2 linked regions of the Homo sapiens genome follow. The protein of the gene in region 2 interacts with the protein of the main gene of each other region in a pairwise test. Each region holds a gene or a part of one and is shown on either strand. Other genes may lie near its edges.

Region 1 (3,754 bases), on a different chromosome or scaffold from region 2:
CTTGTGAAGATAGAACTAGAACATTACTTTTGGTTCCCTGAACTTTAAAGAATATGTGGTTATTAAAACGTTCCACATTGTTTGACAGGAAATGTACCTCATTTCCAGATGGTCTGACACAAGTTGGAGATCACAGCTTTGTTCCAAGGGGAATAGTGTCCTAAATATTTACACTTGGAAGACCTTATTTTTAAGAGCATATTTCAGGATTAAAGCTTTGTGAAACTGACTTGTTGCTTAAATATGAGTAAAGATTGGTTTTAAAGACTAACACAGATTAGAGGCATAGCCAAATGTAACGTATGGACCTTGATTGGATCGTGGTTTAGAGGAAAAAGCTTGTGAAAGATATTCTTGGGATGTCTGAAAAATTTTGTATGCAGATTATCATATGATATTGTTAATTTGTTTACATGTGATTACAATATTGTGATTCCATAGAATTTTCTCAGGAGATCAATATGCATTTAAAGTGTCAAGATGTCTGAAGTTTTATCTTGTTTAGCAAAGCAAACAAAAGTACATGTGGAGATGAATTAAATATGGCAAAATGGAAACAACCAGTATAGCCAGGTGGAAAAACAGGTGTTTATGATACTATTTTTTAACATTTCTATATGTATGAAAACTATTATAGTAAATAGTTGGAGAGAGATTTTAAAAAGAAATATAGAAGCTCAATTAATTTTCTCAATAGCATATAATTATGTTCCTGTGCCTCCCTGCTGCTTAAAAATATATGTATTGGAAATATGTATAGTGAAAATAGTCTAGTACTGATAGAGGCTGTCTTTTTTACACCAGTTTTTGTAATAGTCAAAAGATCTAGATATGGCCACTAAGATTATGTAGAGATGAATCCTTCTAATTCCTCCCTTCTTACTACACACTGTCTGCCAAATCATACACATAATATTTGCTGATATATAAAGTACCTGCTCTGTGAGGCTGGGAACTTTAATAGGAATTTGGGAATACGAGACGTATGATTGTTAAAAATAGGCATCAAGAAGATAATGAGGAAAATTGCCAAGGAATCTAACAGTCAGTGGCAATATTTGAGCATCCTTACTCTAGAACTACACACAGAAAGTAATGTGTGAGAGGTAGATACTTCCAGCTGGGAAGTCCATAGAAAAGCTTCTCTATGGTGGGGATAATTGTGCCAATTCTTAAAGTATTAGTAAGACCCACATGAGTAAAATATTCTTTTGTGCTTTCTACCATAGCACTCTCTACAATTTTTTATGCTCTCTTATTATACATATTATCTAAGTATACTTATTGTGCTTGTTTAATCTTCTGCCTTTTCCACCCCAAGGGAGCAAAAATTGCTGGACATGGCAACATTTAATAGGTGTTAGTAATGTCAAAGGAGTAGTGTATGAAAGGGGAATAAGAAGAGCTGAGTTTGATTTTGACTTGAATGCCTTTTGGATTAGCATTCAAGTATATCATTATTTTCTGGTTTTGCTTGAAAGAAAATGACCACAAGATTGAATGCTCTGATATGTGCACTTTAGTGTTTTGCGGTATATATCAATAAAGATAAAAATATCTTGTAAGTTGGAGGGGTGAAAAAAATTTTAGATATTACAATGATTTATGATCTTCCATGGTTTACCCCTATCAAAATGTTAATCTTTAATATTTATTTTATTTGGGAAAAAATTTAATTTTAAGTTTAATTAAATTTATTTTAGATTTTCTCTTTAGGATCAACAATGGGTGGGGAAGGATTGAGAAGCACTGGTCTAGACTATAAACCTAGACCATAAATCTTGACTATAAACTCAATGAGACTCTGGACTGTATCTGCCTAATACACTGTGGTATCCCCAACAGCTCACAGAGTGTCTGGTATTTAGTGTAAACACAATAGATGTTTGTTCCCTTGTTCATTTGTTCCTTCTCCAAAGTGAGGTTGGGTGTCCACATGGAGGGACCAGCCTGCTCACAGGTATGAGAGAGTTCACCCCTGTGGTCGGGGAGCAGGCTGAGAGGCCAGGCTGGAGAAGTATAAAGAGCCTGGGCCTTGAAGCCCTCATCTGGGCTGTGCTCAGGAGCTTGGCCTTTCAGAAGAGGGAGCAGGGGAGGAATTGAGGAGTTGGAGGGATTTCAGCAAGTGGGTGACGCATGCTGTGCTCTAGGAAGAGTGGAATCGAGTACTTGAATTAGTTTTGTCCTTGAATTAGTTATGGCTTAGTACTCGTATATATGCTTTTTTTTTCAGTTTAAATGACCTGACATAGGTACTTTAGTTTTTGGGGGATGTGTATTGATCAAGGAAAAAGTGTCTCATAGAGTTGTGGTCTTGTGGCTGGCTTATTTCACATGTGTTATTTCACACATCTCAACATTGAGATCTGTATGTGACTCTCTGCTGCCTCTTGGTGGCAGAAGATGAACTTAGCAAGGCAAAAAAATTGAAGCATTCTCTTGGTCTTTTTTATCTGCAAACATTTGGTGGCGTACTCATGAAAGTTAAAACTTTCCAGAGATTAATGTGGTCATGTTAATGTGATGAGTGGATATTTCAAGACATCTGAAGTTTGAATTTTATTAATTTGTTCCATTTTGATATGGTAGCAAAAGATTCAGTAAATGTTGGTTTTGATTCTTCTAGGGTTCTTTTTTTTTTTTTTTTTTAAGAAGCATGTAACTTAATTTCTAGGGTTGTTTTGGTAAATTTAATGGCTATAAGATTATTTTCTAACTTTTTAAATATAGTTTTAGCCACTTATTGAATAGGAACAGATAGCTAACTGCTTAGCTAGTCCCTAAGTCTTTTTATAGAAGTTTCGTTCTCCTTTAACACATTGTATTAGTTAGGGTTCTCTAGAGGGACAGAACTAACAGGATAAATGTATATATGAAGGGGCATTGATTAAGGAGTATTGACTCACACGATCACAAGGTGAGGTCCCATGATAGGCTGTCTGCAAGCTGAGGAGCAAGGAAGACAGTCGGAGTCCCAAATCCTCAAAAGTAGGGAAGCCGCCAGTGCAGCCTTCAGTCTGTGGCCAAAGGCCTGAGAGATCCTGGCAAACCACTGATGTAAGTCCAAGAGTCCACAAGCTGAAGAACTTGGAGTCTGATGCTCGAGGGTAGGAAGCATCCAGCACAGGAGAAAGGTGAAGTCTGCTCCTTCTGCATTCTTCTGCGCTTTTATCCTAGCCATGCTGGCAGCTGATTAGATGGTGCCTATCCAGATGGAGGGTGGGTCTACCCCTCCCAGTCCACTGACTCAAATGTTAATCTCCTTTGGCAACACCCTCACAGACACACCCAGGAGCAATGCTTTACATCCTTCAATCCAATCAAGTTGGCACTCAATATTAACCATCACACATGCTTATTTGGTGGGAACCCTTCTGGTTGGGAAGGGTGTTTTCCTGTACAATAGGTTAGAAAGCTTGATCATCAACATGTAATAATTTGTATTTATTATTGAGCACAATATGACTTTTGTTATTTGCTTTTGAAAGCTAGTACTTTGGTTGCATAACATCTGTCATTTTTAACTTAGTAAAATTCTTTTCCAGATAAGCTCCGAAGAAGTATGCCTAACCTAGCCCGGATGCCAAGTACAACTGCCATTAGTAGCAACATTAGTTCTCCGGTCACCGTGCGAAATAGTCAGAGTTTTGACTCAAGCTTGCATGGAGCTGGAAATGGAATTTCAAGAATACAATCTTGTAGTGAGTATAATTATTTGATATAATTATATATTGTATAATTGTATAATTTTTTA
Region 2 (3,754 bases):
ACTCCTCATTAGAGGCTATACTTCAGTAATACTTTCCATTTTAAGTCTGTGCTTTAAGAGGGACCCACAGGCATGTGGCACCACGCAGTCTAAAGTTGGTGAAGGAGACTGCACTTTTTGTTTAGTCACCCACACGTTCTCTAGCGAGATACAGAATTGCATTTATACTCTTTTCTTCTACATGAATGATCCCTCTTATCTCGCAAGAGGTGGGGGAGAAAGAGAGCTGCATCGGTACAAGGGCACAATTTTTTTGGTCAAAAGTTGACACCTTTTAAATTCCCTCTCCCACCCCTCCCTGGAAAAAAGTTACTTCCTTAATTAGGTTTTCTATTTAGTAACCAACATTGACTGGACAGAAAATATGAGGCTTGGGTTCCAAATAGATGAGCTTGTTCTTTTTTGGGTTTGTACCGTGCAGTTCTTGCTACAGTTGTTAAGGAGTTAGGGCTATGTCCCATCAGGAGGCATCTGTAGGATTTTGATCTCCAAGGAATTGTGGGTGAGTCGCAAATAGTTTGCTCAGAAGTAGGCAGAGTCAAAAAAGCAACTTCAAGTAATTGATTCCTTTGTCCAAAAGAGTTAAAACATTAAAGTATATGCGGGACTTATTTTGTAATATTTTAGGGTTTTGAAAAATAAAATATGGAAATCAATTTTTTTTAATTTTGTTTTTTGCTTTTTTCCCCCCCTTTCCAGATGCCTCCTGATTGACCTAGTACACTGGGTTAAAAGGGAATTAAAAACATTAAAAAAAAAAGTTCACTGGTTTTGATTCATCTCACTCCTTTTGCCTGGAGATCAGGCCAAACATCAAGCATGTTGGGAGGGGCACAATTTAAAGCAACACTATTGACTGTAAAGCATCTGCCAGCAATTTACAGTGCAAAATGACAGGTAACAATTCTTGTCACAATGCAAGAGAATGGCAAGCAGCTTTCTGTAGCATGAAAGTTAACAGCTCTCAGGTTGCCCATTCCTGCAAAAGTTTATGTATCAAAGCGGGCAGAGGGCAACACATTTACACACTACAGGAAATGATCCACAGAAAATTAAGCTCCAGAACTGCTAACATTACCAAAGCTGGTACTGGCTAATATTCTGAAATGCAAATCTGTGCTTTATATATATACTGCTCAATGACACTGCCACTCAATAGAATTCCTACACTGCAAGGTAGATTAATCTTTGCCCCCTGTTGCAGAGCTTGAAATATTCCTCAAACTTTTAGAAAGGGGGAAGAAGCAAAATCAGAGCTTCTCAAAATAAATGTTGAATTATCAATGTTTTGAAGCTTCCTTGCTCTCTCTGGTAAACCTACTCCAAAGGTACTAGATGAGACAGTGTGGCAGCAAACAGTACATCCCAGATTTCTGGGCCCCTTTACTAACACAGGGTACCATAGAAATCTGCTCTCTACAGCACGAGGCCAAAGTACTTTCTAGAATTTAGTGTTGCGTAAAACTGAGCCCCTCTCATCTTTAGCTGCTCCCATAATCACTCTAATCCCCTTAATCCCAGCAACCTTCATCCAAAAAAAAATATATATATATGTATATATATATATATATATGAACCCAGAAAAAAAACTTATTTACAAAGTTATACAAGTATACACACCCAATTTTCTATGGGACACGCTTTGCCACAGAGGAAAGAGGGCCAAGGCTCTGACATGTCTACACATCAAGTGCCATACTACTACTGGAGGCATATGTAACCCAGTCTTTAGTGTCTGCTATAGAGCACAAAGGCTTGTCATATGGCTCCTGCAATGATAGACTGCTCTTTCCTTTGGGAGCGATGATGTTTTTTATCTACTCAGCCCAGAAGAAATTTTTACTTGGGATTGTTTTTTTAAATACATGTATTTACAGTGCGGATGAACTGCAGTTGCATATCAACTCCTCCCCAAAAAGAAAAAAAAAATGGTGTTTAACATTACTAGTGAGTTTCAACTTCTAGCCCTGGGCTCGAGTACTGGGTAGAAAGGGAAGAGACTTCAACCTGAAACCAAAATAAGAAGACATTTTTTAAAAGAAAAAGAAAAAAAAACGGAAAGAAAGAGTTACTATTGTTGATTCCTCGGGCTGTGTCTAAAAGATGATATTCTGAATGGTCTCATAGCATAAGGCACTTCGCACAAATAAGTAATAAGCTCTTCAGGCTTAAAAAACGGATGAGGAATCAGGGAGAAGTTGAAATGCACGAGAGTCAGCTGTTGGAGAATTTTGAAATCATTGACAAGCTTGTGTGTTCATTAAGATTCTTCTCTTTTTAGGGTTTCTCCCCTTCTCTTCTTTCTTTTCCTTCCTTGTCCCCTTTCCCCAGAAAACATTTTTTAAAAACCAGCAGTTAGTGCAACTAATGTTCAGTCAGCACACAGTGCAAACAAGTGGAACAAAAAAGGTATATTCCTTCTTTTCAGCCTTTTTCTCTTCACCAGTTAAAAAAAGAAAATGTCTGAGCTCTTTTAAGTCTTCATAGTTCCAAAATAAAAGATGAAAAACCCACAAAGAGAGGAGCATTCCCCCCAAAACGATGTGTCACAGATCCAAACGAGCCTTTTGTAATTTGTCAAAGCCTACAGAAGAAGAGAATACAAAATTAACATTCTGAAAGCAACACAAACTAGGATACATAGGTTTTCACAATCCTCATCCCAAATGCTCTTTTCTAGTAGTTTCTACTAACCCTGTGCCTACTATAGAATCTACTGGTTATAGGATTAAATAATTTCTGGTAGGCAACCCTGAGATAGATTGGGGGCCTGAATGAATGTGAATGTTCTGATAGCAGGCAGCCCTCACTCGTAACAAATCCGGGGGAAAAAAATTAACCTTACACAAACTGAATACTCTGCCAAAGTACTAGCAAACATTGGCTAGTTTCATGCTTGTCCAAGAGTTTGTGTTTGATGTTTAACTTAAGGAAAAAAAGAGTACAGAGTAATTTAAAAATTATTTAAGTAACAATTGGTTGGGTGAGGTGGCTCCTGCCAGTAATCTCAGCACTCTGGGAGGCTGAGGTGGGCGGATCACCTGAGGTCAGGAGTTTGAGACCAGCCTGGCCAACATGGTAAATCCTCGTCTCTATTTAAAAAAGAAAGAGAAAAAAAATTTAAGTAACATTAGGTTACTTAAATAGGTAAGATGTTCACCTATAACTTGGAAACTATCCTTTGTCAAATCAGATTTTCTTTAGGAAATACTGAAACAACCTACCTTGCTTAAAGCTGAGCCTTGTTTCATGCATTTCTAACTAGAGCCCAATAGTCACCAAAAGATGATAGAGGCAGGGCGTGGTGGCTCACACCTATAATCCCAGCACTCTGGGAAGCCAAAGTGGGAGGATCATTTGAACCCAGGAGTTTGAAACCAGCCGGGGCAACATAGTGAGATCCCATCTTAATAAAAATAAAAAAAAGATGGGAAGACAGGTTGTCCAGGAAATCAGAGTGGGTATTTTATTTATGTATTTGACGGAGTTTCACTCTTATTACCTAGGAAATCAGAGTGGGTTATTTATATATGAGGCAGAGTTTCACTCTTATCGCCCAGGCTCGAGTGCAATGGCATGACCTCGGCTCACTGCAACCTCTGCCTCCCAGGTTCAAGAGATTCTCCTGCCTCAGCCTCCTGACTAGCTGGGATTACAGGCGCCCGCCACCATGCCTGGCTAATTTTCTGTATCTTTAGTGGACACGGGGTCTCACCAGGTTGGCCAGGCTGGTCTTGAAGTCCTGACCTCAGGT

What was found. The genes of interacting proteins can lie anywhere in the genome.
Region 1: the proteins of DDX6 (region 2) and SLAIN1 interact in binary tests that used the Homo sapiens proteins (3 or more experiments, as listed by UniProt).

Annotation. Positions count from the first base shown.
Region 1 is NC_000013.11:77,749,658-77,753,411, forward strand, and holds part of SLAIN1 (SLAIN motif-containing protein 1), read left to right. Parts: intron 1-3,545; coding exon 3,546-3,701; intron 3,702-3,754. UniProt on the Homo sapiens protein: Microtubule plus-end tracking protein that might be involved in the regulation of cytoplasmic microtubule dynamics, microtubule organization and microtubule elongation.
Region 2 is NC_000011.10:118,749,514-118,753,267, forward strand, and holds part of DDX6 (probable ATP-dependent RNA helicase DDX6), read right to left. Parts: intron 2,585-3,754; 3' UTR 1-2,584.